7 linked regions of the Homo sapiens genome follow. The protein of the gene in region 4 purifies or fractionates together with the protein of the main gene of each other region. This does not show direct contact. Each region holds a gene or a part of one and is shown on either strand. Other genes may lie near its edges. The genes, in order: PTDSS2, VKORC1L1, RFT1, ADORA2B, PIGG, SLC39A10 and MPZL2.

What was found.
Region 1: the proteins of ADORA2B (region 4) and PTDSS2 purify together in Homo sapiens (affinity purification with mass spectrometry; one large-scale study listed by BioGRID and IntAct). This does not show direct contact.
Region 2: the proteins of ADORA2B (region 4) and VKORC1L1 purify together in Homo sapiens (affinity purification with mass spectrometry; one large-scale study listed by BioGRID and IntAct). This does not show direct contact.
Region 3: the proteins of ADORA2B (region 4) and RFT1 purify together in Homo sapiens (affinity purification with mass spectrometry; one large-scale study listed by BioGRID and IntAct). This does not show direct contact.
Region 5: the proteins of ADORA2B (region 4) and PIGG purify together in Homo sapiens (affinity purification with mass spectrometry; one large-scale study listed by BioGRID and IntAct). This does not show direct contact.
Region 6: the proteins of ADORA2B (region 4) and SLC39A10 purify together in Homo sapiens (affinity purification with mass spectrometry; one large-scale study listed by BioGRID and IntAct). This does not show direct contact.
Region 7: the proteins of ADORA2B (region 4) and MPZL2 purify together in Homo sapiens (affinity purification with mass spectrometry; one large-scale study listed by BioGRID and IntAct). This does not show direct contact.

Annotation. Positions count from the first base shown.
Region 1 is NC_000011.10:456,536-460,871, reverse strand, and holds part of PTDSS2 (phosphatidylserine synthase 2), read right to left. Parts: intron 686-4,336; coding exon 584-685; intron 1-583. UniProt on the Homo sapiens protein: Catalyzes a base-exchange reaction in which the polar head group of phosphatidylethanolamine (PE) or phosphatidylcholine (PC) is replaced by L-serine. Catalyzes the conversion of phosphatatidylethanolamine and does not act on phosphatidylcholine.
Region 2 is NC_000007.14:65,952,238-65,956,565, forward strand, and holds part of VKORC1L1 (vitamin K epoxide reductase complex subunit 1-like protein 1), read left to right. Parts: intron 1-1,836; coding exon 1,837-2,063; coding exon of another isoform or gene 2,064-2,176; 3' UTR 2,177-4,328. UniProt on the Homo sapiens protein: Involved in vitamin K metabolism. Can reduce inactive vitamin K 2,3-epoxide to active vitamin K, and may contribute to vitamin K-mediated protection against oxidative stress.
Region 3 is NC_000003.12:53,087,147-53,090,209, forward strand, and holds the end of RFT1 (man(5)GlcNAc(2)-PP-dolichol translocation protein RFT1), read right to left. Parts: 3' UTR 1,337-3,063; downstream 1-1,336.
Region 4 is NC_000017.11:15,943,415-15,948,380, reverse strand, and holds the start of ADORA2B (adenosine receptor A2b), read right to left. Parts: upstream 3,252-4,966; 5' UTR 3,133-3,251; coding exon 2,798-3,132; intron 1-2,797. UniProt on the Homo sapiens protein: Receptor for adenosine. The activity of this receptor is mediated by G proteins which activate adenylyl cyclase.
Region 5 is NC_000004.12:522,502-526,837, reverse strand, and holds part of PIGG (GPI ethanolamine phosphate transferase 2, catalytic subunit), read right to left. Parts: exon of another isoform or gene 3,995-4,336; intron 3,380-3,994; coding exon 2,925-3,379; intron 1,668-2,924; coding exon of another isoform or gene 1,600-1,667; exon of another isoform or gene 1,034-1,599; intron 1-1,033.
Region 6 is NC_000002.12:195,663,208-195,667,543, reverse strand, and holds part of SLC39A10 (zinc transporter ZIP10 precursor), read right to left. Parts: intron 1-4,336. UniProt on the Homo sapiens protein: Zinc-influx transporter. When associated with SLC39A6, the heterodimer formed by SLC39A10 and SLC39A6 mediates cellular zinc uptake to trigger cells to undergo epithelial-to-mesenchymal transition (EMT).
Region 7 is NC_000011.10:118,254,123-118,258,458, reverse strand, and holds part of MPZL2 (myelin protein zero-like protein 2 precursor), read left to right. Parts: intron 1-1,145; coding exon 1,146-1,209; 3' UTR 1,210-1,221; exon of another isoform or gene 1,222-1,548; intron 1,549-3,225; 3' UTR 3,226-4,336. UniProt on the Homo sapiens protein: Mediates homophilic cell-cell adhesion.

The sequences.
Region 1 (4,336 bases), on a different chromosome or scaffold from region 4:
CTCTAAAACCAGCTTCTCTTCCACACGCACTTCTGAGACTGGCGTCAGAATCCATGGAATTCAGGCAGAGGACACACCCAAGGTCTAGCCTGCCTGCCTGTGGAGATAAACCTGAGAAGACGAGTTTACTCGCTTGGCTGCTGACCAGATGGTCTGCGGTCCGTGTCGGCCCCTGTCCGTGCAAGAGCCCCGCTGGCTAACGGAACCAGCACGCGGCCACCGCAGGAACCTCACCCCCGGAGACGCCCAAACTCAAGGGCTCAGCCCTGTAGCTGCTGCAGCTCGTTCCAACCTCAACATGCAAAACTCAGAGGAAACGCAGCACAGGCTGCCGGTCACGTGGAGATGACACAGACTCCTGGCTCCCAGTGACAGGCGACGGGGGCTGACCGGGAACGCCACGCAGCACCAAGGGCAGCCCTGGAGTCTGCACATCAGACACACTCAAGGGAGAGGCCGGCGGCCCCACGCAGCCCTCTGGTGAAGGCCTTCTGAGCCCCCGGCAGCCCGAGCAGTAAGGGTGCCACACCCACCACACGGGGCACAGGGCAGTTTCAGAAGGCAGGACAAGAGGGCAGCTTACCTCTTGGTGTTGTAGGCCGTGTCCTGAGGTGTTTCCTCCAGCAGCGTCACATAGCCAAGCGTACAGGTGAGGATGAAGAGCACGGTTAAGGTGTGGGCTCGCCTGAAATCCAAAAACGCATAAGCATGGTGTCAGAGCTTGGGCAGCATTGCTAAATACTCACGTAACAGGCCCCAAATCCTCTCTACGTCAAGGAGAGGGCTTAAACTCCACTCTCCAACTCCCAACCAGCAACTGGCTGCGAGTCCCTAGCTGGGTAACTCCGAGATGACCCTGCGTCTGCTGGCCAGTCAGGGCTGAGACCAGCCCCCAGGAGGCTGGACAGGAAGAGCCCCGTGTTCCTGGGAAGCTGAAGGCCGCTGCTCAGAGGGCACATGCTGCCACTGGCGTCCAGGGCAGGTATCTGCTATTAAGAGCAACTGGACACGTAAAACACGCGCTTTTCACTGCGCAAGACAAGCCGAGACAACAACTCTTTGGGTTCATGAAATAACATCTGAGATTCAGTGCAGCAGCCCAAGACACCAAGAGCTGAGAAGGGGCCTGAGCAGAGGCCTGCAGAGTGACCGCTGCTAGCTGGAGTGAGCCACGAGCCGTGGGTCTGCCCGTCCTCTGGCCTGTCAGAGCCCAGACGTGGGAGGAGGAGGCAGGGCGCTCCCTTTGCAGTCTTGTCCTGTCCCATCGCTGGTGGAAAAGCCCACAACCAGCCTAGTATCAGAACTGGGGGCCACCAGACCCCAGCCACTGCCTGTGCCAGACACTCGCCTGAGACCCCCTCTGCATGACCATCTGCAAATGGAGGCAGAGACCTAGTTCCTACATCCATCGGAGTGTGTCCTCGGAGAGATGATGCACCCCTCTGTGCCTCAGTTTCCTCATGTCTAACCCAGGTCCTACATCCACCAGAGTGTGTCCTCACGTCTAACCCAGGTCCTACATCCACCGGAGTGTGTCCTCACGTCTAACCCAGGTCCGACATCCACCGGAGTGTGTCCTCACGTCTAACCCAGGTCCGACATCCACCGGAGTGTGTCCTCACGTCTAACCCAGGTCCGACATCCACCGGAGTGTGTCCTCACGTCTAACCCAGGTCCGACATCCACCGGAGTGTGTCCTCACGTCTAACCCAGGTCCGACATCCACCGGAGTGTGTCCTCACGTCTAACCCAGGTCCGACATCCACCGGAGTGTCCCCTCACGTCTAACCCAGGTCCTACATTCACCGGAGTGTGTCCTCACGTCTAACCCAGGTCCTACATCCACTGGAGTGTGTCCTTGGAGAGATGATGCACCCCTCCGTGCCTCAGTTTCCTCATATCTAAATGGGGAAGCTTCTGACTTCCAAGGACATCATGAAAATTAAGTGAACAATGCACTTAAAGCATGTTGCCCAGGACTTGCCTCCATGAAATGTAAACTATTTGTGCCCTAAAGAAATGAAAAGGCAAGTCACAAACTGGGAGAAAATATTCACAATACATATATCTGATAAAACTTTGTAGGCTGCACGCGTCTGTAGTCCCAACGCTTTGGGAGGCTGAGACAAGAGGATTGCTTGAGCCCAGGCGTTCAGGACCAGACTGGGTAACACAGTGAGACCCCATCTCTATAAAAAATTAGCCAGGCGTGGTGGCAGGCACCTGTAGTCCCAGCTACTCGGGAGGTGGCAGATTCGCTTAAGCCCAGGTTGAGGCTGCAGTGCGCTAGGATGATTGTGCCACTGCACTCTAGCCTGGGAGACAGAGCAAGATCTGTCTCAAAAAAAAAAAAAAAAAAAAAAATCAGGCCAGGCGCGGTGGCTCACGCCTATAATCCCAGCACTTTGGGAGGCCGAGGCGGGCGGATCACGAGGTCAGGAGATCGAGACCATCCTGGCTAACACGGTGAAACCCCATCTCTACTAAAAATACAAAAAATTAGCCGGGTGTGGTGGGTGGGCGCCTGTAGTCCCAGCTACTCGGGAGGCTGAGGCAGGAGAATGGCGTGAACCCGGGAGGCGGAGCCTGCAGTGAGCCGAGATCGCGCCACTGCACTCCAGCCTGGGCGACAGAGCGAGACTCAATCTCAAAAAAAAAAAAGAAAAAAAATACTTTTTATCCAGAATTTATAAAGAACTCATACAGCTCAATAAACAATTTAATGAAAAAATAGGCAAAAAATTGAACAGACACTTCACAAGGAAAACATACAAATGGCCAATAAGCACATGAACAAACGAGGAGCAGCACTGGTCACCGTGAAAGCAAATCCAAGCCAGGACACATCAGTACACATCCGCTGGAACGGCTGAAATTAAAAGCATCACAAATCCAAGCCACGACACAGCATCAGTGCACATCTGCTGGAACGGCTGAAATTAAGAACATCACAATGCAGAGTGCTGGTGAGGTCTCGGAGCAAGATGCTCACGCACTGCAGGTGGGACTGCAAAACGGCACAGAAAAGTGAGGCCTATGCTACGTCTGCTATCCAGCCAGCCACATACTCCCAAACGTGGGCCTGAGACAGATGAAAACACAGGTCCAGTCAAAGACACACTCCCAAACGTGGGCCTGAGACAGATGAAAACACAGGTCCAGTCAAAGACTTACATGCAGATGTTTCAGGTATAATAACCTAAAACGGGAAACAAACCAAAACTCTATCAGTGGAGGAAACACTGTGGTCCCTCCGACCAGCGGAGCATGGCTCAGCACTCAGAGGAATGTGCTGCTGGCAACGACCTCAACGTGGATAGATCTCAAAGACACGCCCCTTGGGAGGCCCAGGCAGGAGGACTGTTTTGGGCCAGGAGCTCAAGACCAGCCGGGGCAACATCATGAACATCGTGAGATCCCGTCTCAAAAGATAAAAAAAGAAAAAGAAAAACACGCTACAGACGCCAGGCACAAAAGAAACCTCCCATCTGCTGTCACCCACACACGACTCAAGGAAATGAGTTTGCATCCACGAAAAGCAGACTGGAGCGGAGACACGGGCCTTCCGGATGATGGAATGTTCTGGTGTGAGCGTGGTTGTGGCGGTGCATGGGCGTGTCACCTGCACGTGGGTGCTGCACTGAACGCACCCACACCTGGACTTAGCCGATTTCATGAAGAGCCAGGGTGGAGCTGCAGGACTGCAGGTGGAGGCTCCAGGCTGGAACTTTCTGTATTTTTTGTGCAGATGGGGTCTTGCCATGTGGGTCAGGTTGGATTTTTTTGTATTTTTTGTAGAGACGGGGTCTTGCCATGTTTTCCAGGCTGGTCTCAAACTCATGAACTCAAGGGATCTGCCCACCTTGGCCTCCCAAAGTGTTGGGATTACAGGCATGAAAGTGAATTCTTCTGCCATATTTTACAATACTAGGCATTTAAGACAACCAGAGGTAAATAAAAGTTTCATTGTGACTATCAACCACCTTTTTCTTTAGATACATTTGCATTTGAGTCCTAAGCCATGAGGAAACCGCAGGGAACCTCAGCCTTCCTGCTGAGCTCCACACCGTGGGGCCCTTCAGTACTGAGAGACCTGCCCACAATCACAGCAGAGAACCCACGTCAGAAGGCCCTCTTAGGCCCCCATTCCTAAGGGTGCCTGGATTCGGCGACCCAGAAACTCACCCTCTGCTGAACACTACACTTACAGAACGTGTCCTCCTGGAGACAGCCCTTGAGGGGAAACGGGCTGGGCTCAGCTGGGGCCCAGGAGTCCCCTTGTCCCTGGCCTGCCCCTCCATGAGGCCCACCCTTTCCTCCATACAGGTGACATCAG
Region 2 (4,328 bases), on a different chromosome or scaffold from region 4:
AACTTTTTCAGTAAAGGGCCTGGCAGAAAATAGGCTTTGCCAGTTGCCGCAGCCACTCAACTCTTCTAGTATGAAAGCAGTCACAGACATTACGTAATGAATGACATTACATAAATGAATGAGCATGGCTGGGTGCCAATAAAACTTTATTTACAAAAGCAGGTAGCTGGCCAGATTTGCTAGTCCCTGCAACAAGTAATTCAGCAGCACCTTAGTCTTGAAGTGCCCTATGAAAGCATCTAGGCCCGTGGCTGTGCGGCAGCCGGCCCACAGGCGTCTTCTTGTTGCATTTTTTTTTTTGCCAACAGGGCCCAGGATTTCAGCTCTTTAACTGACTTCTTTATACCTGCTCCCACCTGTTATTTTGTTCCTGTTTCTGTTATCCTTATCCATGAGTCATTGGGTAGGAGGGTAGTTTAACATGCTCTGCCTTCTCTGTCCTTGAAAATAAATGCACATATTCTCTATACTGTTGCCTATAAGAAATTAAAAACAATACATGTGAAGATAGAGTCCAGAATTCAGGTGCCTTTTTTTTTCCTTTTTTTTTTTTTTTTTTTTTTTTGAGACAGAGTTAAGACTCTGTCGCCCAGGCTGGAGTCCACTGGTGCAATCTTATCTCACTGCAACCTCCGCCTCCTGGGTTCAAGTAATTCTCGTGCCTCAGCCTCCCTTGTAGCTGGGGTTGCAAGCGTGCAATACCATGCCCAGCTAATTTTTTTTTTCTCTTGTACTTTTTAGTAGAGAGGGGCTTTCACCATGTTGGCCAGGCTGGTCTCAAATTCCTGACCTCAAATGATCTGCCTGCCTTAGCCTCCCAAAGTCCTAGCATTACAGGCATGAGCCACTGTGCGTGGCTTCAGGTGCCTTTTTGTATTGAGAGCCTGGATTTAGCACACATGTCCACCATTTTTCTTGATCAGGTTTGACCCACATGCAGCCAACGGGCAAAATGTGGTTTCCCTTATCCACCAGGGTGAGCCCTTCCTGAAATGTTTATCAAGAGTTTCTTTTTCTCTCTTCAGCAGCTTGTTGGTGTAGTCACCTCTCATTGTGGATTTTTAATCAATTTGATCTAAACATGGAAAAGCAAATTTTACTTTCCACAGATGGGCAGGATGTAGTGAAAGTCCAGAGAAGGTTCTCACCAAATGTGTGCAGCTCGGAAGAAAAAGGTTGTGGTCCTCATGTCCCGTTATTCATTTGGTGTCTTGGGGCTGTTGATGTTACAAGTCAGCTTCATTGCTTAATGTGATTGTGAGATTGCATGTTTTCTTTGTGTGCATATTTTCAACTAGGCTAGTTTGTGAAATTAGTAATGTTTTACCTGAAAGATTGAGAAATCAAAAACATCACAGCTATAAAACTGGCATTTGGCTGGGTATGGTGGCTTATGCCTGTAATCCCGGCACTTTGGGAGGCTGAGGCAGGAGGATCACCTGAGGTTAGGAGTTGGAGACCAGCCTGGCCAACAAAAAATCAGCCAGGCGTGGTGGCACGTGCCTGTAATCCTGGCTACTTGGGAGGCTGAGGCAGGAGAATTGCTTAAACTCAGGAGGTAGAGGTTGCATGAGTTGAGATTGTGCCACTGCACTCCAGCCTGGGCGGTAGAGTGAGACTCCATCTCAAAAACCCCAAAACCTGGCATTATCAACTGCAGAGTCAACCTGTATAATTTTAACAAAACAGAGCAGTATTTCTGTTCTCAATTTTCAGAGTTGGCAGGAAGATCAGTATTCAAACACTGCAGCAAGTCACACAGTGTTATTCCTTGTCACTCAGAAAGCCTCTCTCCAGCACCAAGGCCTGACTGAGCCTGCGTCTCTTCTCTTACAGGCATGACAGCAAGCGCTGTGGCGGCTTTGATCCTCATGACGTCCTCCATCATGTCGGTCGTGGGGTCCCTGTACCTGGCCTACATTCTGTACTTTGTGCTGAAGGAGTTCTGCATCATCTGCATCGTCACGTACGTGCTGAACTTCCTTCTTCTCATTATCAACTACAAACGACTAGTTTACTTGAACGAGGCCTGGAAGCGGCAGCTGCAACCCAAGCAGGACTGACGCCCGACAGACTCCACCCTAACAGTCTCAAGCCCCTTTCCATTCAGTTTATTTTGCAGCAGGTTTTTATTATTATTATTATTATTATTATTCACAACAGACACTTTCCCTAAGAATCTCAAACTGATTTTTAAAAATCCGGTAAATTAGAAGGGGCCCTCGCTATTTTCTGTGTCAGTCTTCATTTTAAATATGGATACAAAAAGGATACGCCGAGCCAATCAAAGACAAGCTTTAACTTTACTTTGAAGTGTTTCTGAAATGATAAAATGTAGCCCTAGCCCCCTGCCCTCAATTGTAAAGTGAGCAACCATTGCTAGTAATTCTTTAATGTGTATAAATTCAATTTCAGGTATAACAAATGTGATCATGACATGAAAATATTCTAGAATAGATACTGTATTAAATATTGCCATGTTTACAATATGTAATATGTTTTTAGCCGATGGATTTAAACATGTAGATTCAACTAGAATCCATTTGTGATATTTGTAAATAAAGGTAGAAATATTAGATCCATTTCTGCAGAACTTACTGTACAGTTTAGTTGGAGTGTAGCACTGAAGAACTGTCAGCTCAGCGTTGACTGAGGAGATAGTGAAAATAGCCTATACACAGCATCTTGTGAAAAGTACTGGCAGCCGTGGTTGCAGCAAATAATAGGGCAAAAAAAATAATAATAGGGTGGTCGGTTCCCTTTCATCTCCCTCTTCTGAAAGGAAAAAATTGAATTGGAACGTTCAAGTCCAGTTTGTGTTCAGTCATAAAACTGGGCCAGTTGTTAACCTTACAGAATGAGTCATGTGGCCAGACCTTCAAGTCCAAGGCCTTCAGACACTAAGGATGGGAAAATGGGTATTTTTCTTTGGAGAAAAGCTGGAAATATAAACATGGCATTTTTAGGTAAAGTTTCTTCCACTAGTTGAATTTTCATGCAGATATTTTTCCTTAACGTTGGTGCCAGTCAAGCAAAGAGTATTATGATGGAAAAGACCAGTCCAAGCCCCATCGCTCCGGAGTGGGAGCCAGTGTTCTTGCTAATTGTTTCTTTCTGCACTAACCACTCAGATGTCTAATTTAATTGTTTTGCAGTCAAATACTGGATTTGTAACCTTCAGGGCTGACATGCTGCCCAGTTTGCTTCATCGGGAGAATAGCAACAGGTAGACACATCTCAAGGCTAAATCTGCTCATGTCGCCACTGCTCTCATAATGACACACATGCAGTAAGAAGACTTTTGTAAGGGGATTTGAGTACACCCAAATGAAATTGTGACAGGATGTTTGTATGGTTAACATCTGATATCAGAATGTTAAAAGTGCCTTCTGTCTTAAATCTCAAACCAAATATTTTGTGTGTTGACCTTGGGCAGAAGAAGTGTCCTTCCCTCCTTTCTTCACCGTCAGGTAGAAAACCTGCACTCTGCAGAAGGGTCCTGTGTGATCACTTAATCCTCTGGTTGAGAAGCAGCAGTAATGTTTTTGCTTCCAACCTGATTAATCATTTTATGTTGAAAATAGTCAATGAGACCAGTATCTCTTGAGTGCTTTATTTGCCTTCTCTTTGAAGGGAGGGGACGGGCTCTGCTCTGTAAACTCAAATGTGTAGAGTCAGCAACAATTCCGTAGCTTCCAACTGACTCAGAATTGATGCAACGTAGGTCTTCTGGCCCGAGGCAGGTATCAAGTCCAAATCATAATGAACTTTTCACCAGTTTCAACCAGTTTCTTAAAAGAGAGCTTAAGTCAAGATTTCATCAAGACTTGTGTTTTCCCATGAATGTGAATCTTTCAATGGCTGTTGGAGTATGTATGTACTGTTCTTGCATTCTGAAGTAGTTAAAGAACTCTAGAAAGTACTGATTGGCCATCTGGTGTCTATGGAGAAAGAAGTCCTCACGTTTGAGGGCTGTACAGTGAGGCCATCTTGTAGCAGCGCATCCAGCTCTACCAAGGCAGTCCTCTGGTTCTTTTTTCTAAGCTACAGTGGAAATGGCCTAATGGTTAAAACTGTGGTATACATGACATCGGTTGTGCTAAACAAGTTCCTCGTGTCCCAATATCCAATGGTTTTTCATCCTATTTTGTATCAATCAACAGAGTATAGTTAAAGCTTGTCTTGATGTTGCATTCTTGCAAATGTCTTCAACTCTTACCTGAGAAAACATGGCAAAATGGTCAGCCAGACCCTTCCAGTTTTTCCTTTGCTTTTCTAAGCCTCGGGGAAACCACTGTTTCAGTTGTATAAAAACTTTTGCCACATTC
Region 3 (3,063 bases), on a different chromosome or scaffold from region 4:
GAATTGCTTGCACCTGGGAGGCAGAAGTTGCTGTGAGCCAAGATCGTGCCACTGCACTCCAGCCCGGGCAACAGAACGAGACTCTCTCAAAAAATAAATAAAATATGTGAAGGATATCCCCTGTTCGGATTCTCTCTCTTCTTTAGTCCCCACCCCGTTTTCAGCCATGGCTCTTCTAAGACTAGGCCAGGGATCATGCTGCCCCTGATTTCCCACTGTGAACTGAACTCCATCCATCCCAGAGGCCACACAGCAACACTCACAGCTCCCACCGTCCGGGCCTGCCCAGCCTCTCACCTGAGCCCCTCCTCCTCCAGGTTCTGGATGCTCCCAGCTCCTGCCTGTCTCTTCCTCAACATCAAAAGCTGCTCAGGAAATAATTTTTTTTTTTTTTGGAGTGGGGGGACAGGGTCTTGCTCTGTCATCCAGGTTGGAGCGCGAACATGCTCATTGCAGCCTTGAAATCCTGGGCTCAAGCAATCCTTTGCACCTCAGCCTCCCGTATAGGAACTACAGGTGCGTGCCACCACGCCCAGCTAGTTTTTAAATTTTTTTGTAGAGATGGGGTCTCCCTGTGTTGCCCAGGTTGGTCTCAAAATCCCGGGCTCAAGCAATCCTCCTGCTTCAGCCTCCGAAAGTGTTGAGATTATAGGCGCAAGCCACAACGCCTGGCCCGGCAAAGAATTCTTTTTTCTTTTTTCCTCTCACTAGAGAACAAAAAGGAAATAAATCTTGATGGGGTTATTTTACATCTTAGTGTGAATGAGTCACCGAGTTCTCTGCGGAATCTGAATTTCCAGTATCCTCTCTAATTCTGGAAATAACAGTCTTTGAACTAGGTGAAAGGAAATTCTGGAAATAACAGTCTTTGAACTAGGTGAAAGGAAATTCTATCACCTGATGGAGGAGGATATTAGAGTGAAGGGGCTGTCCTAGACCCCCTGAAATCACACACTTGCCCTGCTCTGTGCTGAAACTAGTCCTGACTTCTCAAGGAATGGCCGTTTAATAAACAAACAAAACAAGGACCAGGCCAGATGGAGAAGACAGGAGAGAAGTCCCGCAAACAACGGGAAATACAGCTTAAGGGGGGATGGGGAGAGGAGCAAAGGAGACACCACAGGCCTTTCAGTCCCAGACACAGGAGGTGCCAGGATACCATCCCTCTTCCAAAGTCAAGAAGCCCAGTCCCAGCTACAACATCAACAGAGAGAGAAACGTTCCAGCTGAGGAACACCAAAGGTTCACATCCTCAAGTTACTTACCTACCCTCCTTATGAAATTAAAGAATTTTTGTCCCTTTTGGAGGGAGAAGGGGTATGAAAGAAGAAAGGTCTTTTCAAAAGTGTGAAGAAAATATTTTATTTCTTATTAAACCAGGGGACTGATGTGAAACTAGCAACAGGAATGCATGATTAAGGAAAAAAAATGGCTGGTCTGGAATCCCAGCACTTTGGGAGGCTGAGGCAGGAGGATCACTTGAGCCCAGGAGTTCAAGGCAACAGTGAGATCCAGTCTCTACAAAAAAAAATTAGAAATTAGCTGGGTGAGGTAGCACACACCTGTGATCCCAGCTACTCAGGAGGCTGAGGTGGGAGGATTGCTTGAGCCCAGGAGTTTGAGGCTGCAATGAGCTATGATGACACCACTGCACTCCAGCCTGGGCGAGAGGAGAGAGTGAGACCTTGTCTCTGAAAAGAAAAGAATAGGCCAGGAGCGGTGGCTCACGCCTGTAATCCCAGCACTTTGGGAGGCTGAGGCGGGCGGATCACAAGGTCAGGAGTTCAAGACCAGCCTGGCCAATATGGTGAAACCCTGTCTCTACTAAAAATACAAAAATTAGCCGGGTGTGGTGGCAGGCGCCTGTAGCCCCAGCTACTCAGGAGGCTGAGGCAAGAGAATCGCTTGAACCCAGGAGGCAGAGCTCGCAGTGAGCCGAGATCGCGCTACTGCACTCCAGCCTGGGCGACAGAGTGAGACTCTGTCTCAATAAATAAATAAATAAAGACAGGAGGAAGGAGGGGCCCTGCTTGAATCAGGTTGGGAAGTGGCTGGGAACAGGGCAGAGTAGCGGTTCCAGAGCCAGAAGTTGCCATCAGGTAAGCATTAAACAGCACAGCAGCAGCTCCTCACTGAGAGACCCCAAGCCAAATCTGAAGTGACCAACAGTTACCTGTGGCCAGAGGAGCACAGGAAGTCAGCGATACTGTTCTTCTCACCAACGAATGCTCCTTCCTTTCATAAAGGTTGTGCCTCAGAGACTTGTTTCCATGGAGAAGTAGCCTCACTATAAGTGGTATTGAAAGCCAAAAGTATGATTTCTGCTCCCCAAATCCACTTGGGTAAAGTGAGGCAGGCTGGCCCACATGTATGCAAGCTCCCTGAGGCACAGCTGTGGCTCTAGGGGGTCCAGCAGGGGAAATGCCAGAGGCCTGGTCAGGTCCAGCTGAGCTTTAGGGAGGCACCAGAGGCAGAGAACCACAGAGGACCTGCTGCCAAAGTGCTGACAGCCCAGGCGGCAGGGCTAGTCCTGGGAAAACACGCAGCCACATGTACAACTCTCCCTAGATACAGGGAAGCAGGACACCGGAAGAAGCCCTGGGCTGCCTTTGCGGCTGGCTGTCTTTCAAGAGGAGCTGGCCCTGACAGCAGCACTGGGCGAACAGCAGGGGAGGGATGAGAGAGTGAGCACTGCCTTCAGACATAGAGCCTCTCTCAAGCTGAGAGAGCACAAGCCTGGGGAGTCCTGCTCCCAGAGACCCCGGAGTCACAAGGCTGCTTGTAGAGCAGCAGCTCTGTTCCTGGAGCAGAGAACAGGCACTGTGAGCATGAGCATGATGGTCCTGGGCCTGTCACGAAGGAAGACAATGGGGCATGCCAACCTTGGTGGCATCAAAGCCACGTGGGCTTGCCAGAAAAGCCAATCTCAGAGCCCTCCTCCTGGGAGACACAGACCCTGAAGGCCTGGAGTGGGTCCTGGGAAGCCATGTTCTGACTTGCAATCCAGGTGATTCCGAGGCAGGTAGAATGAGGATCATGCTTGAGTCTGGGGTCAGGTGGGCA
Region 4 (4,966 bases):
GAATTGTCTATGGACTTGAACCAGAGGCAATGGACTTCTGTTTGTGGCCAGCCCTGTCCTGAAGGCAAAGGGCCAGGCCAAGGGCGTCATATTTGTCCCTGGCATTCCCTCCGGCTCCCCTCCCTTCTACACTGTCATCTGTCACATCAGTAAACACCTTGGCAATGCGGTGGCAGGTGGGGGCTGTGGTCTCTGCGGCCACAGGCCTCACACTTGGAGCCCTCGAACCGGGAGGAACTGGGGGTAGGTCCCAGGACTGTCCTAGCCTAAGCCTTTAGCCCTCACTCCCTGCACCTCACCCTCCTTATTGCTTGGCTTCAAAGGGGACACACCTCCTCCCAAACAGGGCACTTCCAACTTTACTCTCACCTGGAGTTCCACAACCCCAGGAAGGCCTCAGGGCCAAGTCAGTGCTTGGGGCGCCATGCACCCAGCCTGTGTCAGTCAAGTGAGGAAAGCTTCAGGCCCTGAATCTAGGAGGATTCTTAGATCGCTGGACCCAAATGTCCCTGGTTAAAGATCCCACTGCTGGAATCCCCTCGACACCCACTCCAGAGATTCTGATTCAGTACAACCAGGTGAGGCCCTGTAATCTGTATTTTAACCTCTTCCCAAGGGGCCATGAACTGCTAGGCCAGCTGAGGGAAGGCCTGCCCCAGGCACCAGCCCCTGAGAGGGAAGCCCTGGGGGCCCTAGTACACCTCTCCCACCCACCAGGGTTGGGGTGGTGCTGTGGCCAGGTCAGACGACTAACTCTGGGGCAGGGAGCTGGGGACTGCCTGTGCACCTCTTCCAGACCTCCAAGCTCTGGACGGGCCAGGAAGGCAGGATGGGGCGAGCCTCAGTGTTCTTCCCTCCTGCCCTTGGCAATGCAAAGAAGCTCAGGGCCTGTGATTCACAGCACTTTCCCCTTAACACACCCACACCCATTTTTTTCAAGACCTCACCCAGCACAAACCAGGACAAGAAGGAACAGATTTAAACTTTCATGGAACTTCCTGCTCCCTGTGGCCTGGGAGATTGTTCCACTAACTCCTCTCTGGGTCTCTGGTCTCTGCCAGGGCAAGTCCAAGGGGTTTCCATTAGATGGACAACTCAGGCTGGGGCTTGTGACTGCTCTGCTGGATGCAAAACATCCAAAATGCCATCAAGTAACAACGATGACACCAAAAGGCAGGGAAGGGATCCAGAAGAGAGAGAAGAAACTGCTGTCCTCCCTAAGCCTTGGAAATCCCTGGGCTGTCACACCTGATGGGAGACATAAGGCCTCCTGGTCCAACAGCACGGGCAGCAGCACATGGAGTGGCCAGACACCCACATAAGGCTCACAGCCCTCCCAAGCAGGAGGCTCCTGTTCCTGCTGGGACCCACGAAACAACCTGCAAGGACCAGGCCCAACACATCTGCCTACTCAAATGGCCTCTGGGAGCATTCTCCGGCTCCATTCCCACAAACACATTCCCCTACAACCACCAGTTTACTGCAGGCAGGCTCCTCCTCCCAAAACAGCAGAGCACTTTTCTCCCTGACTCCTAAACACGGTGCCACACATGGCCTTGCAGAGTGGCCTGATGGCATGGGTGGGGACACGGTGCCAGCTGTGAGTTCAAGCCCCGGCTCTGACACCCATCCCTGATACACCATCCTGGGCAAGACTCCAACCTCCCTGGGCCATCACCCCTCCTCTACGAGATGAAGGTTACAGCACCCGTCCTCTGGTACTACTGCAAGGACTGCTGGGGACACGTTTATTATAAACTGTCTGCACAGAGTTGGCACCCAATAAATGAATTCCTTCCCTTCCTTCCTACTCTGTGATTTAGTTTCCCTGTCTCAGCTCCAAATTTAAAGAGATCTCAAGCTCTCCTCAGAAATGCCAAAGTGGCCCAGGCACCAAAGACAGAGAATAAATACTTTCAACAAACTCTCAATGTTGAAGTCATCAGCTCCAACTGGGAATCCACTCTGGTCGCTGGCTGACTCCATCCCCTGAATCCTAGATTTTCTCAGTGTGGGAGAAAGAGTGGACAAGTAAGTTCGCCACCATTTTCTGCACTTCTCAGCCCGCTCCCAACAGGGCAGCAGGAGATAAATAGTTACACAAGGGCAGTGAGGCTGTAAGGCCGTTTGCCAGACACGAGGAAGCATTGTAACTCCTTTTAAAAGTATATAATCTGAGTCCGTAGCGTTCCCCAAAGTTAACGGACACCTTCCCCTGGGATGGGCCGGGCCGCCTCTCCGCAGCAGACACGTTCTGAAGCTGGCTCATGCGTGTCCATTCTGACGGTGCGAATGCCCAGCGTCCAAAGTTGCCTTGCCCTTAGTGGGAACCTCCCGGGCCTCCGGGAGCCGCAGCACTCACGGGACTGCCGCTGCACCGCCGCTGCGGGCGAGTGTTAGGAACGGCCTTCGTGGCAGGAGTGGAGATGTGATCACCAAAACTCCCGCGCCCCGGGCTCCACCCGCCCACGGGGGTGACGCTTTCCCCGGGGGTGACGCTTTCCCCGGGGTTTCCACGGCGCCTCCCCGGGCGCCGGGGACCGCACTCCCCGGACCCCCTAGAGCTGTCCCTACGCAGATCTCCTTAGAGCGACGCGCATCTGGGATGTCTTGGGTGCCCGGGCGCACTGGTCTAGCGTTGCGGGGTGGCCAGGCTGGGAACCAGCCCTCCAAGCGCCCCGCGCGCCCCCAGCCTGGCCCGTCTGGGGCCCCCGAGGGAGGAACCCCGGCCTGGAGAAGACGACCCATTTCGGAGCTCCGACGGGGCCCCGAGTTCGGGCGACGCCGAGCGCCTCACCTGAGCGGGACACAGATGGCCAGGTATCTGTCGACTGCCACGGCCAGAAGGCTGAAGATGGAGCTCTGCGTGAGCACCAGCACGAAGCAGGCGAGGAAGAGGCAGCCGTAGAAGTCAGTGCAGAAGCCCAGGCTGATGGTGATGGCAAAGGGGATGGCGAAGAGCCCCACGGCCACGTCGGCCGCAGCCAGGGACACCAGGAAGTAGTTGGTGGGCGTCTGCAGAGTGTTCGCCGTGCCCACCGCGGCGCACACCAGCACGTTGCCCGCCACCGAAAGCGCGGCGATGACCAGCTCCAGCGCCACGTACAGCGCGTCCTGTGTCTCCAGCAGCATGGCCGGGCCAGCTGGGCCCCGGGCGCCCCCTACCGAAGGCGCGCCGGGCGAGGGGCAGCCGCGTGAGACCCGCCGGGCATGGCCATAGCGCCCGGACCGCGCCTCCGCCTGCCGCTTCTGAGCCTCGGGGCTGGGGCGCTGGTGGCCGGGACCCACGGGTCGGGGCCCCCCGCGGCCAAGAGGCGGCACCCATTGGCCCGCGCGCCCGCCCGTCTCGGGCTGGGCGGAGCACCACCCACTCGCCCGAGCCCAAAGTTCGCGCCCGCGCGGGGCCCCTCCGGTCCAGGCGCCGTGCCGCGTCTTGGTGGCGGCGGATAACTAACAAATTGCCCCAACTTCCCGTCACGCTCGAGCTCGGAGGCTGTGTCCCAGTGCTCGCACTGCCTTCCAGTCCGGGCGACTCCTGGGATGGGGCCGGGCTCTGCCCGGGGCGCCAGCAGGTCCCAGGAGCCGCCGCGAGAGGACCCCCCAGGGCCGCGCAACCCCGGGCGGGGCGAGCTCACTCCAGGCTAACCCTGCGCACCCCGGGCAGGCCGACTGGATGGGGGGCTGCCGGGCAGGCAGGGAGCCGAGGCCGCAGTCCCCGCTCGTGCAGCAGTCTCGGGCAGCGCAGCACCACCGGAGCTGTCTCCAGGCTGCGGGGCCGGACTGCAAGGAGCCCTCGGGGGCTGCAGCCCCCTCCGGCCGCCTCCCAGCGAGGCTCAGCGCTGTTCTCCACCCTCGCCCGCGCCACTGCCCCTACGGCCCCGCTCTGCCTTCTACCTTAAGACAAGCTCGTGGCCGTCCCATCCTCGTCCACCGCCCGAAAATACCAGTGTTCCCCGGGCCCTCTTTTTTCTTTCCTTCACACTCACCCTGGATCGGCACAGGCTCCCGAGGCCTCCCACGTGGCCCTCACACCCTTAACTCCCAAATCTCTTGCTTCAGCCCTAACAGCCTCCTGAGGGCCAGATCCTAACACCCCACTGCCGACTCTCGCCAGGAGAGAGACTGGTGCCCCCAAATCCAACAAGACCAAAACCAAGCTCATCTCTAATTCTCCCCAAACCTGTGCTGCCGCCTTTTCCTGGGACCCTGTTCGTTATTGACCTGGCAACCCTCACCCACCCTAGGAAGTTTGCTGACACCCTGAGCCTTCGCCTTTCTCCACGTCCCAATGATCAGCAGTGCTGCTGGTTCTGCTTCCAGAGACTTGCTTCCTTTTACCCCCAAAGTCCTGCCCCGAGTCCCTCCTCACCACCTGCTTCTACCATCCCTCCCTCTCTGCCTGTGGGTCCTCAGCTTCTGCAGCCCTCACCAACACCATTGTTCTAGAGCACTCCTGGCCACGCTATTTCACCACCCGAAAGCCTTTGCTGACAGTCACCAAAGAGGATGGGTAAGGAGATTTTCCAGCAACAGGAAAAGATGCTTGTAAAATCATGTAAAGCAAAAATCAAAACATGGGGTGACTGCTAAAGGGTAAAGGATTTTGTAAAGGATTTTTTAGGGTGATAAAAATTTTCTCAATGTGGTGATGGTTGTACGGTTCTGTGGATATACCTCAATGCCACTGAACTGTACACTTGAAAGGCATGCATTGTGTGGCACATAAATTATATCTCAATGTAGCTGTAATGACGACAACATGGCTCACGCCTATAATCCCAAAACTTTGGGAGGCCAAGACAGGAGGAACATTTGAGGCCAGGAGTTCAAGACCAGCCTGGCCAATGTAGGGAGACCCCATCTCTAAACAAACAAATAAAAAATAAATCAGCCAGGCACGGTGGCAGGTGCCTGTAGTCCCAGCTACTTGGGAGGCTGAGGCAGGAGGATCCTTTGAGGCCAGGGG
Region 5 (4,336 bases), on a different chromosome or scaffold from region 4:
GGTGGCTCACACCAGCAATCCCAGCACTTTAGGATGCCAATGCGGAAGGATCGCTTGAGGCCAGGAATTTGAGACCAGTCTGGGCCACATGGTGAGAACTCATTAAAAAAAAAAAAAAAAGACAGTTAACTTGAACTCTCACTTCTCATTCACAAACGGGTCTCCCACCATCAGATGTGGATGCCCAGAGGCCAGGCGGTGACAAATAGAAACCGTCCTCTTGTTCCCTGGTACCCTCTCGGGGTCAGCCCTGCACCTACCAGCTCACCTCCCCTCTCCTGCCTCCTCCCATTAACTCAGTAACGCATGATACGTCCCTAGACCCACATGGCCTCACAGGGTCTGCTGTCACCCGCTCCTGGGTGAGGAGATGGTGCAGAGGTTGACGGCCTGTCAGAGGGCAGAGCCCGGAGTCCCGACCGCGATGCGGTGGTGCAGCACCAGCCAGTCCTGGCCTGTGTGAGGGTGGGGAAGGCCGGGCTCCCTTCTGTTTCTTTCACTGCAGCTCCCGCTTCAAAGCCTCCCAGGATGACGGGGAGACTGGGGCCACACGGGGGCCTGGGCCTCACCCCGGGAAGGGGTACCTGGGTGTCTGTGTATTGTTGCTTTTTAAATGGCACGCGTTTTTACACAATCTTCAGGATTGTTATAATAATAAAATAGAACATTTATAACAATATAATTGTTACTGTCATAGAAATTATATGAATGTGGGCTGCCTCAAAATAACTGTCATATTTTCAGACTATGGTTGACCTCGCGTAAGGAAAACCGCGGATAATGCGGTTGGGGGTGGCTCTTGCATGTGGGGCGGAAAGCCAGCCAATTCTTTCCTAATGCTTTAATTTTCCAGGAAAGTAAGAAACAAGGTGTCAAAGTGCTATTCCGGGACACGGAGCTCCCTGACACACCCGGCTGCTCTACATGCCTGGGATCCCACCCCGATGCTGGCGTGCCCCGCACAACCTCCCAGCAGCCCGTCCCCCCTCCGCTTCCTCACCTCTGGAGTGGGGACCAACCAAAGTCCCCTCTCCGGGGCTTCTCTGGAAAGGAAACGTGCAGGCACACAGCAGGCAGATAGAAGGACCCATCTGCGATGACTTGGCTAACCGAGGTTTTCGTAATTTAGTTAATGCTTAGCCTCCCACAAGAATTACTTAATCAGAAGAATCTGTAATTTCGCAGCTTCTGATGTAAACTTACAAGTATCTTCCAAAAGAACTGTGCCACTAACGTGGCCCCAGGAATCCTCACGTGCTCACCAAGACTGAGTCTCGTCATTCAATTCTGCTTCTCTGCCTCAGCAGGTATGAAGTCACACCCTGTCATTTAACTGGAAGTGCCCTCATTACTAGGACTAGGCATTTCCCTTTTCCTTCTGCTGCCATTTCTTACAGGAGTTCTCTGCAGTGACGGGACCGCAACCCTTGCTGTTACTCTCGCCGCAGATGCTCTCATTGTGCTGCTTCTTTTGCTTTAGTTTCCTAAGTCTTCACTGCCAGACAATTAAAATTTAAGTCTCGGCAAATCTTAGTTATTTTTCTGTCCTGGTTTCTTCTACTTATTTCGAGCCTTGCTTGAAATGATTTGCTATACTTTCTAGGTGGTTTTCCAGTCGCCAATGAAAGGCTCAGGAGGTGGCTGAATTCCCCCACACGGCTCTGTCCCTTCAGGATGAGGAGAGAGAAAAGGGAGGATGGGGAGGAGAAAGGAGCTTTGCTAAGGGCAAAGCTGGCCCACAGAGGCTGCGCCTGCCTTGCCTGGCTGACCCCGTCCTTCTTGCTGCCCTGGGGATCATCAGCAGCAGGATAGGGGTCTGGGGGAATGACATGGCTTAGATGTTTGTCCACTGCAAATCTCATATTGAACTTGGACCTTCAGGCTGGGCACAGTGGCTCACGCCTGTAATCCCAGCACTTTGGGAGGCCGAGGTGGGTGGATCACTTGAGGTCAGGAGTTCAAGGCCAGCCCAGCCAACATGGTGACACCCCATCTCCACTAAAAACACAAAAATTAGCCAGGCATGGTAGCGGGCGCCTGTAATCCCAGCTACTCAGGGGGCTGAGACAGGAGAATCTCTTGATTGCAGTAAGCCAAGATCGTGCCACTGCACTCCAGCATGGGTGACAGAGTGAAACTCCGTTTCAGAAAAAAAAAAAAGACACTGAACCTCCAGTGTTGGAAGTGAGCCTTGTGGGAGACGTCTGGGTCATGGGGGCAGATTCCTCACGAATGGCTTGGTGCCATCTTCGCAGTAATGAGCGCATTCTCGCTGTGGCTGTTCACAAGAGAGCTGATGTTTAAAAGTGCCGGACACCCTCCTCATCCCTCTCTTTCTCCTGCTCTCGCCACGTGAAGTGCTGGCTCCTGCTTTGCCCTCGCCATGACCGCCAGTTTCCTGAGGCCTCTCCAGGAGCAGATGCCGACACCATGCCTCCTGTGCAGCCCGCAGAGCTGAGAGCCAAGATGAACCTCTTTCCTTACATGTGACCCGGCCTCAGGTGTTTCTTTATAGCAACACACGAATGGCCTGACACAGGCAGACACTGAGTGATGGGCGGGGGGCACACAGCCCAGGCATGGACGAGGCGTCCAGAACAAGCCACTAGCAAGCTTGACCCCCACATAGCATCTTTACTATATAATGATCACTGAAACACAAGTTTTCAATCATGAACAGTTACAGTGGTTCAGCACTAATAAATGAAACCTGTTAGGCTAGCCCCCAAATAAATTCACTTCTCAACATTGATTCTAGTATCCAGTAAAACACTGGTTTTAGTGTATTTTCCCAATTCTTCAGATCTCAAATACTATCCCATTCTTAATATGAAAAATGGTCTCAATTTAGAAAAAGAAGAGCTTGGCAGGTGACCAATCGGCCGTAGAAAGTCTGGCCTGTGGCCACGGGCCTACGCTCTCACCTGGTGAGCCAGTGGCCGAGGTCAGGCCGGTGAGCCCACTGCACACCTGTCTGGTTTAGGGAGCGCAGCAGCCGGCAGCAGGCCAGTATTAGCCACGGACTGGCCAGCACCATCCACTTCTCGCGGCCTCTGAGCACTTCGGAGGTAGAGGGGCTTCCGTGGCCTTTGTCTCGCTCCAGGACATCACAGCCAGGCCCGTCCTGCCACGCTGCTGTGGCCCCGTCATGCCCTTGTTCCACACAGAGGCCACACGGAGGCTCACCGTCATCTCCCAGAAAGTAGTTTCTGTAGGTTTCTTGGCTCAGAGCTAGACACAGGGTGTTCACAAGGAAGTACCAGGTCTGGTGCTCCTCCTCCACGAAGCTGCTGGCGCCCAGGCTCAAGACGTGGCCCGCCGTCCCCAACAGAATAAGAAGGTCTAGCTCTGACCACCTTGAGCTGGGATGCATGGGGTTCTGTGAAAAGGAAAGTGCACTTTGTAAGAGACGGTCTGATAACGACACACATCTTGCTGCATGTCAAGTCCTTGCTCACAGCAGAGAATGCCCTGGACACACACCATTGTTCCTCACACCCAGCACCTGGGCCCCTACTCTGGAACAGCCCCCTTCTGCTCCAACGGCAGGAACCTTCCTCTTGGGACGCAGCCTGCAGGAGTGGAGACGCCCTCAGCCCAGGCAGGGGAGCCGGACACTGCACGGCCAGCCAGCTGTTCTCACACTGGACTCCAAGTCCCAAGGTGAGTGACAAAGACTGAAAATGGTCAGAACCCTCTGGGCAGTGGTGCAGCCCAGAGAGCTTGCCCAAAGGCTCCTGGACCCGGCCCTCCACGCTCCCGCTTCCAGGCTCTGGAAGAGCTTAGGTCTTCAGATGCACGTCGCCAGTGCCTGCTTCTTGAAACCAAAGAACCTCAACAATACATCCCACCAAACCAGACCTCAAATTTCTCCAGGAATATTCTAGAAATCCAGAACGTTTCCACTAAAATGGTTAATTCTGTTGAAATGACAAAGTTGGCATCACAGTACTGTCTCTTAAATATACTAACTTAAAGCAGTCAAAAGTAAAGATGAGGACTCAATTATTGCCGTTTATTCTTTTGGTAACTACATACTGCGTGCAGCTAGGTACTAATTCAATAGCAGGAGAGAGAGCATGAGCCCAGATGGGCCCGAGGTGCAAGCGTGGCACAGATCATCCTGGCTCCGAGGAAGCCTGTGCCCTGATGACAAAGCTGTGAGTGTCTCGGTCAGACACTCAGCACAGGGCCTCTGACGGCTCAAGCCAAGAGGGGATGAGGGCTGCGCAGGGTTGGGGTGGGGGCCCAACAGTCCTGCTGCCACTGCAGTGGGTCCCTTGATCCTGGGCTCTGTGGATCTGAGTGTGACCATCCGCCTCTTCCTCACTGCCTC
Region 6 (4,336 bases), on a different chromosome or scaffold from region 4:
GACTCTTTTGAAAGAATGCTAACAAAATATTACAAGAGCACATGCATCGTTAGCACATCCAAGACCTGCTCTAGATTGCAGGAGGCACCCAATTCACTAGTATCTGAGCAGAAGTTGGAAAGACTCACTACACCTTACCAGTTTCACTGACATTAGAATATTCTTCAAGGGATAAAAAGTATTTTAGTAATGAGTTCTCAGCAGGGACCACAAAATCCTCTTACAGCTTCATGGTTTGCTTTTTCATCCCCCTACTTCACCAGCTATCTAATCTACTGGAAATCATATTCACAGTTTGGAATGCCACTGCAACTCTTCCAATAAATAAATAAAAGCACAGTTCAGGCAACCCAATCTTTCCACTGAGATTCATTCATGTAAAAAGTTAAGTGCATGCTAATTAAGCTTGGGCATTAACTCAGTTCTCCTGTTTCACTAACTTGAGAGAGAATATAAACATTTATACCTTGATTTAAAGTATCAAATCAATCAACAACACATCATATCTATCTTTATTGTATTCTATACATTCATGTACAAACCTACATTTTCTCATCAAATGTCAAAACAATTACCTGCATTTCTGCTTTTCAGCCTTTCATTACAGGGAACCTGGAACCATATTGGAGAAAGCTACCTGTAATATTGCTACCTCTGTTCTGCTATTTGTGAATACAAACATCTGAGATTAGTAAATGCAGTCGTTGGGATGTCTTTTGAAGCTACTAAAATGTTTATGATTTTAGTTACATGCATTATGAAGCAGACTTACAGTGCTAACCAGCCAGATGCAGTGGCTCACACCTGTAATCCCAGCACTTTGGGAGACCAAAGCAGGCATATGGCTTGAGCCCAGGAATTTGAGAGCATCCTGAGCAACATGGCCAAACCCCATCTCTACAGAAAATGTTTTAAAAATTAGCCAGGTGTGGTAGCCCATGCCTGTAGTCCCAGCTACCTGGGAGGCTCAGGTGGGAGGATTACTTGAGCCCGGGAGGTCAAGGCTGCAGTGAGCTGTGATCGTACCACTATACTCCAGCCTGGCAACAGCTTATTGTTCTCTTTCCACTCATCACTGACAGCTGTCTTTATTCTAAAAATAGCTACTGCTGCACTACCTCAAATCTTTATTATTCCATGCATTTTCACCCTTCCCTTTTTCAGTGTCTTGTCACTGTTATACATCCTTGATTTTATACCAGCTTGCCATTGTAAAAACTGCCAGCTAAAATGATCCTTCTTTTCCATGACGTCATGGGAAAAAAATAATCAAAAAATCTCCAAGTCAATCTTTGTATAACATTGACTTTTTTTATGTTTCAGACAACACAGAGGCTACTTATTCCCCAACATGGGAGCTTTCTGTCCAATTAATTTTTTAAAACTACATAAAATTCTTGAACATAGAGTCTTGACCACATTCCCCTTTCTTATATAGCTACATTCAGAAACACAGAGCTGGGGTCTTTTAATATATGCATATTAAATAAAAGGACAAAAAAATCAAGCTAATTATTACCAGAAAAAACAAAGTTGTGCAGGAAAGTAGTCATTTATTACAATGGCACATTGTATAAAATAATATTTATAGCATAAAAATGTAACCCCAATTACTGTTCTAAACCAAAATTACAATGAAAATTGTACGGAGAAACTGGAGTACAGGAAATAGGAAGGTATGCACAGAAGTGAAAGAGCACTAAAATCATTCTTCATTAAATAGATAATGGTTAGAACTGAAAATCAGCTGCAAGTAATGAACATGTTATCTGGAGACATGGTAATGAATAGCAAAATAATCAACTAAAGGAATTAAGGGGTTCCTTATCTCTCTAGGCAGAATATGAAAGGAACAGACAGGGGACTGATTTTTCCCCCCAAGAAACTTCACACAACTATTTGATTCTTTAAACTATATTCATGTATAACTTTGAAAAAAACCTAAAAGTTGGCAATTATAAATTAAATTTTAGTTGACAAACCAATAAAATAATGTCACATGTGGAAGAAAATGAATTCTAGCTTTAAGATTTTCACAAGCATTTGTCTGTGGGTTTTTCAAGTATTTATTTTTTGAGGCAGGTTTCCACTGTTGCCCAGGCTGTAGTGCAGTGGTGCAATGATAGCTCACTGAAGTCTCAAATTCCTGGGCTGAAGCCATCCTCCTACATAGCTGGGACTACAGGTGCGCAGCACCACACCCAGCTAATTTTATTTATTCATTTTTTTGACAGAGTCTCGCTCTGTCACCCAGGCTGGAGTGCAATGGCGCAATCTCTGCTCGCTGCAACCTCCATCTCCCAGGTTCAAGCAATTCTCCTGCCTCAGCATCCCAAGTAGCTGGGATTACAGGCACCTGCTACCACACCCAGCTAATTTTTGTATTTTTAATAGAGACGCCATGTTGGCCAGGCTAGTCTCAAACTCCTGACCTCAGGTGATCCAGCCCCCCTCAGCCTCCCAAAGCGCTGGGATTACAGGCGTGAGCCACCGTGCCCGACCTCACACTGGGCTAAATTTTTTGTCGAGATGGTGGTTTCCCTATGTTGCCCAGGATGGTCTCAAACTCTTGGCCTTAAGTAATCCTCCCACCCCGGCTTCCCAAAGTGCTGGGATTACAGGTGTGAGCCACTGCACCCAGCCTGTTTGCAGTCTGAAACACAATATGCAAACATTTTAATTCCAATTTGTGCTATTATCTTTGATTACTTGCTTCGAATGAATTCCAAGATGAGGGGAAAAACTATAAAAACTTTAACACTTTTCAGGTTTTGTCATATACTTACTTTCCAAATTGATTTCTAGAGAAATTAAGCTTGGTTATACTGCCACCAGCAGTATGATCATAGCACTCTCATTCACATTATTATAAATTTTTAAATAAATAAAAGGTCTTACTTTATTTTTAATTCATATTTTTAAAGTTATTCCTGATGTCTCAATATTTTTTCCAACATATATGAGCTTTTACATAACATGATTCAGTCACATTTTCTGCAAAAACCCTGCAGTTCTGTTCCTTTTTATTTTGATCATGTTTTCCCTTTCATGTATAGATGTTTTCATGTACATGCAATGAAACTTATTAAGGTTTCTGCAATTTCTTCTATGACTGCTGCTAAATTTTAAAAGTTTTTTCTCCCCATATTTTAGTGTATATTTTCTTATTTTTTTTTAAAAGAAAAGCTATAATTAAAAATAACTCCTAAAAAACTAAAACCCCTAACATCTATTTCTTTTTTAGGAAAAAGAAAAATGTCAGTTGCACTAACATCCAACACTTTCACACACATATCAGTTAACTAAAAAACCTTAAGTACTTGTGTTTACGCAAAAATCTTCACAGAAAAAGATTTAAGAATTTGTTTTAGAAATTATATATTCCATGAAATTATATTTACAGTGAATTTAAAGAACTTTTTTCTTAATATATTTCAGTGATTTAACTTTAGCATACCTTTCTGATTTTCAATTTTTAACTGGCATGATTATTTGCTTGAAAATAAATTCTATATGTACACTGTATGTGCTTTCATAAGATGTTATATACATTCAATTATTCACTTTATTTGGAAAAAACGGGAGAGAAGGAGGAGGGAAAGGGCTGAAAAACTAGTTGTTGGGCACCATGCTCAGTACCTGGATGACAGGATCATTCATGCCCCAAACTTCAGCATCACACAATATAACCCAGGTAACAAACCTGTACATGTACCCCCTGAATCTAAAATAAAAGTTGAAAAAAAAAAAAAGAAAAAAACTATAGACTATCCTAATTTAAAACCCAAATCTTTTTTCTGTTTTAATATACAATTTACTTTTCTCTTATTTCTTTTTTTTTCATAACTTCTATATTCTTGAAACACCATAAAATCAAAATCTTAAAAACAGTATATTCCAAACATTAAAAAATTATGAAAATATGATATGCTTTTCTAAAAAAGGTCCATGGGAATAGAAAACATGATCTCACTGCCTTATAATGTATATATACACAGAATACGTTATGTGTATATTATACTATCTTATTATTACGTTTTCTTACATTGTTTTACTGATCTCATTTTATAATGTAGTAACACACCATGTATTGTTTCATTTATATTGATAAAGTATTTAAATAAATCTTTCCCTAGCCCCTTTCATCAAGAAGCTATGTTCCTCTATAACACAGTGCAAAGTATATTTCTTCACATGCAAGCAAAATAATGTAAGGAGTCATCTTCAGTAGAAGTGCACTGAGTTAATATACCAAAATATTTGTTTAAAGGCCTGTAAGCATGCAGTTTTGAATTGCTTTATGAGGGGAGTGAGAAGATAGGAGGGAAAGGGGAAG
Region 7 (4,336 bases), on a different chromosome or scaffold from region 4:
TTTTAATATGGGGTACATTATTTCACTTATTCTTGTTGAACTGTAAGAGTTATTTAAGGGATACTAGTTCCTTATCAGATATACAACTTGCAATTTTTTTCCCATTCTGTGGGTTGTCTTTTCATGTTCTTCATAGTGTCCTTTGAAGAACAAAAGTTAAATTTTGATGAAGTCCAGTTTATTTTTTCTCTTTTGCTGCTAGTGCTTTTGTGTCTCATCTAAAAAACCACTGCCTAATCCCCAAGATCATGAAGATTTATGGCTATGTTTTCTTCTAAGAGTTTTATAGTCTTAATTTTTACATTTAGATCTTTGAGTTCGTTTTCGTATATGGCTGAGGCAGAAGTCCAAATTCACTCTTTTGCATGTGGATATCTAGTTGTTCCAGCACCATTTATCTCATTTCCTTAATAAATATTTAATGAAATAAACAGCCTTTTTTTTTTTTGAGACAGACTTTCACTCTGGTTGCCCAGGCTGGAGTGCAATGGCATGATCTCAGCTCACTGCAACCTCCGCCTCCTGGGTTCAAGCGATTCTCTTGCCTCAGCTTCCCAAGTAGCTGGGATTACAGGCATGTACCACCATGCCCAGCTAATTTTGTATTTTTAGTAGAGATGGGGTTTCACCATGTTGGTCAGGCTGGTCTTGAACTCCTGATCTCAAGTGATGTACCTGCCTTGGCCTTCCAAAGTGTTGGGATTACAGCGTGAGCCACCGCGCCTGGCGAAACAGAACTAATTTTAAGAAGCCTAACAAACCCAACTCTGAGGTTCTAGTTTGAATAGAACCAATAAAGATGACTTAGGTCAACACAAAACTTTTTATTTTTTTTTTGAATAACAAATATAAATTAGAGGTGGGATACTAATGGTAAAATAAGGTGTCTGCTTTAAAACTCTGGAGTTCCCGAATCAGAACCCAAACTGTATTCCCTTACATTCTGAAAAGTCTCTAAGTTCAGAGGTGTGAATATTATTAATTAGATGGCACCAGTTTAGCTCTGTGTAAACTTCAATCTACTCCCAAGTGCATGTAATTCTTCCAAAAATATGGGGGAAAAATACCTTACCTGAAGCTTCTGTGGGATTTACCCACTTGCTTCTTGTCTTGTTCACCTGACATTTGGTTTCTGCTTGTTACAGAAAAGAAGAGGAAAGGCTCAACCAAGAGAAAAAGGTCTCTGTTTATTTAGAAGACACAGACTAACAATTTTAGATGGTAAGGTTCACAAATAGGTTGATTTCTTTCTTCAGCTTTCTGACATGTCCAGCCCATCTCTAATGAGGACTCCCAGATCATCACTTTATGGCTGTTAGGTGTTTCCCATATGAAATTAGAGGAGCTGGGTCAGGGAGACAAAAGTCTTCTATTAGTCTTATGGATAGCTCCTCCTTGAGTGTATTTTGTGCAAAAGATTAAGAAGCTGGACTCTACTGCCATTAAAGCTGAGAGAATCCTAAGGTTATTTGTGGCTTCGGGGTTATATTTATTACTACTACTACTAATAAATATTCAACAAGTAAATAAATCTTTTTTAAATCAAAAGATTAGTATCTGCTTATTCTTTTTTTTTAATTGTAAACCAATTATGGTATTAAGAGAGTGACTCAATAGACATATCTGGCAGTTTTTACAGGAGAGCTTTTGTACTATTTGGAATTGATTTCAACTCCTCTCATTTAGTTATTGGCACTAATAACTACATGAAATGAATCCAGTTTTAGTAGCGTATAATTTTATTTTTCCAGTTTTCAGGTTCATCAGGCTTAAAAAGTAGGATAATTTATTTTTCTTGTCTTTGTTTTTGAGACAGGGTCTCAACCTGTTGCCCAGGCTAGGGTGTAGTGGTGCGATCTCGGGTCACTGCAACTTCTCCCTCCCAAGCTCAAGTGATCCTCCTACCTCAGCCTCCCAAGTAGCTGGGACCACAGGTGCGCGCCACTACACCCAGCTAATTTTTGTACTTTTTGTAGAGACGGGGTTTCCCCATGTTGCCTAGGCTGGTCTCACCTGAGCTCAAGCGATCCACCTGCCTCAGCCTCCCAAAGTGTTGGGATTACAGGCATAAGCCACTGCGCCGGGCCAATTTATTTTTCATATGCTCAGAATTTCTCCCATTCTCTGAAATAGGTCCACACATTTAATTTCTAGATGTTATAAATCCGGACATGCAAACTTAAATTTTACGCTCATAAGAAAGTTCTTGATATTAATGACTTTATCCTGTAAAACTCTGGCTCTGTTACACGGGAGAACATTTTTTACAGACCGTTATTAGTTGCAAAGAGGGTCACATTTTTATAGGCTAAAGCTCCAGTGAAAGACCTCAAGGATTTATAAAATAGAATATGGAGTAAAATGATTGTATTGTAAAACCAGAAAACCAAAATTAACATTAGGGAGTTTTTACCAACCAACGGCTATTGTCTTTTTAAAGTTAAGGGGATTATCTAACAACTTGGGGTCATGGAAAATAAATATGGGAGATGTTTTAGATCAAAAGAAACTTAAGAGATGAACACAATCAAAGTGCAATGTGTGATCCCCAACTGGATGAATAATAGTGTGAACAAGCTAGTTGTAAAAACAAGCTTGGAGGGGCAATTGGGAAAGTCTTGAATATGAAAATGTTAAATATATGGATAATATTAGGGAATTATTGTTAGTTTGTATTAGGTATAGTGATGGTATTGTAGTTATAAAGAAAATGTACCTATTTTGAAAAATTCTTACTGGAGTATTGGGGTAAATGTCAGCAATTTACTTTAAAAGCATAGGAAAAAAGCAAATAAAACAAAAAAGGCTTCAGAATTAGGTGATGGGGGAGATGAGGGGAGAAAAGAAAAGAAAAGAATGAATTAATGAATTTAAGGGATGGGTAAATTCCACATACTCTGTTCTCTACTTTTCTATATGTCTGATTTTGTTTGTAATGAGAGTGAGAAGTGGGGAGAATATGGGATGTATGTGTGTGAACAAGTTGTGGGTCATCCAAGTGTCCATGCAAGGTACTTAGAGGCCATGATTTAAGGATACTAACTCTGAAAATTATGTAATAAGGATTAGGAAACTTCTTTTAAAAATTAAATTGGGGGAGAATATGAATACTTTCCCTCAGAATATTTTCCTTCTAATAACATATATGTAATTCATAATGCCAAGTATTCCTATTGTACTCTTCTCAAATATATTATCCATTTAAACTTTTGTTTTGTGTTTTAGGAAGCTGAGATGATTTCCAAGAACAAGAACCCTAGTATTTCTTGAAGTTAATGGAAACTTTTCTTTGGCTTTTCCAGTTGTGACCCGTTTTCCAACCAGTTCTGCAGCATATTAGATTCTAGACAAGCAACACCCCTCTGGAGCCAGCACAGTGCTCCTCCATATCACCAGTCATACACAGCCTCATTATTAAGGTCTTATTTAATTTCAGAGTGTAAATTTTTTCAAGTGCTCATTAGGTTTTATAAACAAGAAGCTACATTTTTGCCCTTAAGACACTACTTACAGTGTTATGACTTGTATACACATATATTGGTATCAAAAGGGATAAAAGCCAATTTGTCTGTTACATTTCCTTTCACGTATTTCTTTTAGCAGCACTTCTGCTACTAAAGTTAATGTGTTTACTCTCTTTCCTTCCCACATTCTCAATTAAAAGGTGAGCTAAGCCTCCTCGGTGTTTCTGATTAACAGTAAATCCTAAATTCAAACTGTTAAATGACATTTTTATTTTTATGTCTCTCCTTAACTATGAGACACATCTTGTTTTACTGAATTTCTTTCAATATTCCAGGTGATAGATTTTTGTTGTTTTGTTAATTAATCCAAGATTTACAATAGCACAACGCTAAATCACACAGTAACTACAAAAGGTTACATAGATATGAAAAGATTGGCAGAGGCCATTGCAGGATGAATCACTTGTCACTTTTCTTCTGTGCTGGGAAAAATAATCAACAATGTGGGTCTTTCATGAGCAGTGACGGATAGTTTAGCTTACTATGTTTCCCCCCCAATTCAATGATCTATAACAACAGAGCAAAGTCTATGCTCATTTGCAGACTGGAATCATTAAGTAATTTAATAAAAAAATTGTGAAACAGCATATTACAAGTTTGAAAATTCAGGGCTGGTGAAAAAAATCAACTCTAAATGATGATAATTTTGTACAGTTTTATATAAAACTCTGAGAACTAGAAGAAATTATTAACTTTTTTTCTTTTTTAATTCTAATTCACTTGTTTATTTTGGGGGAGGAAGACTTTGGTATGGAGCAAAGAAATACCAAAACTACTTTAAATGGAATAAAACCAACTTTATTCTTTTTTTC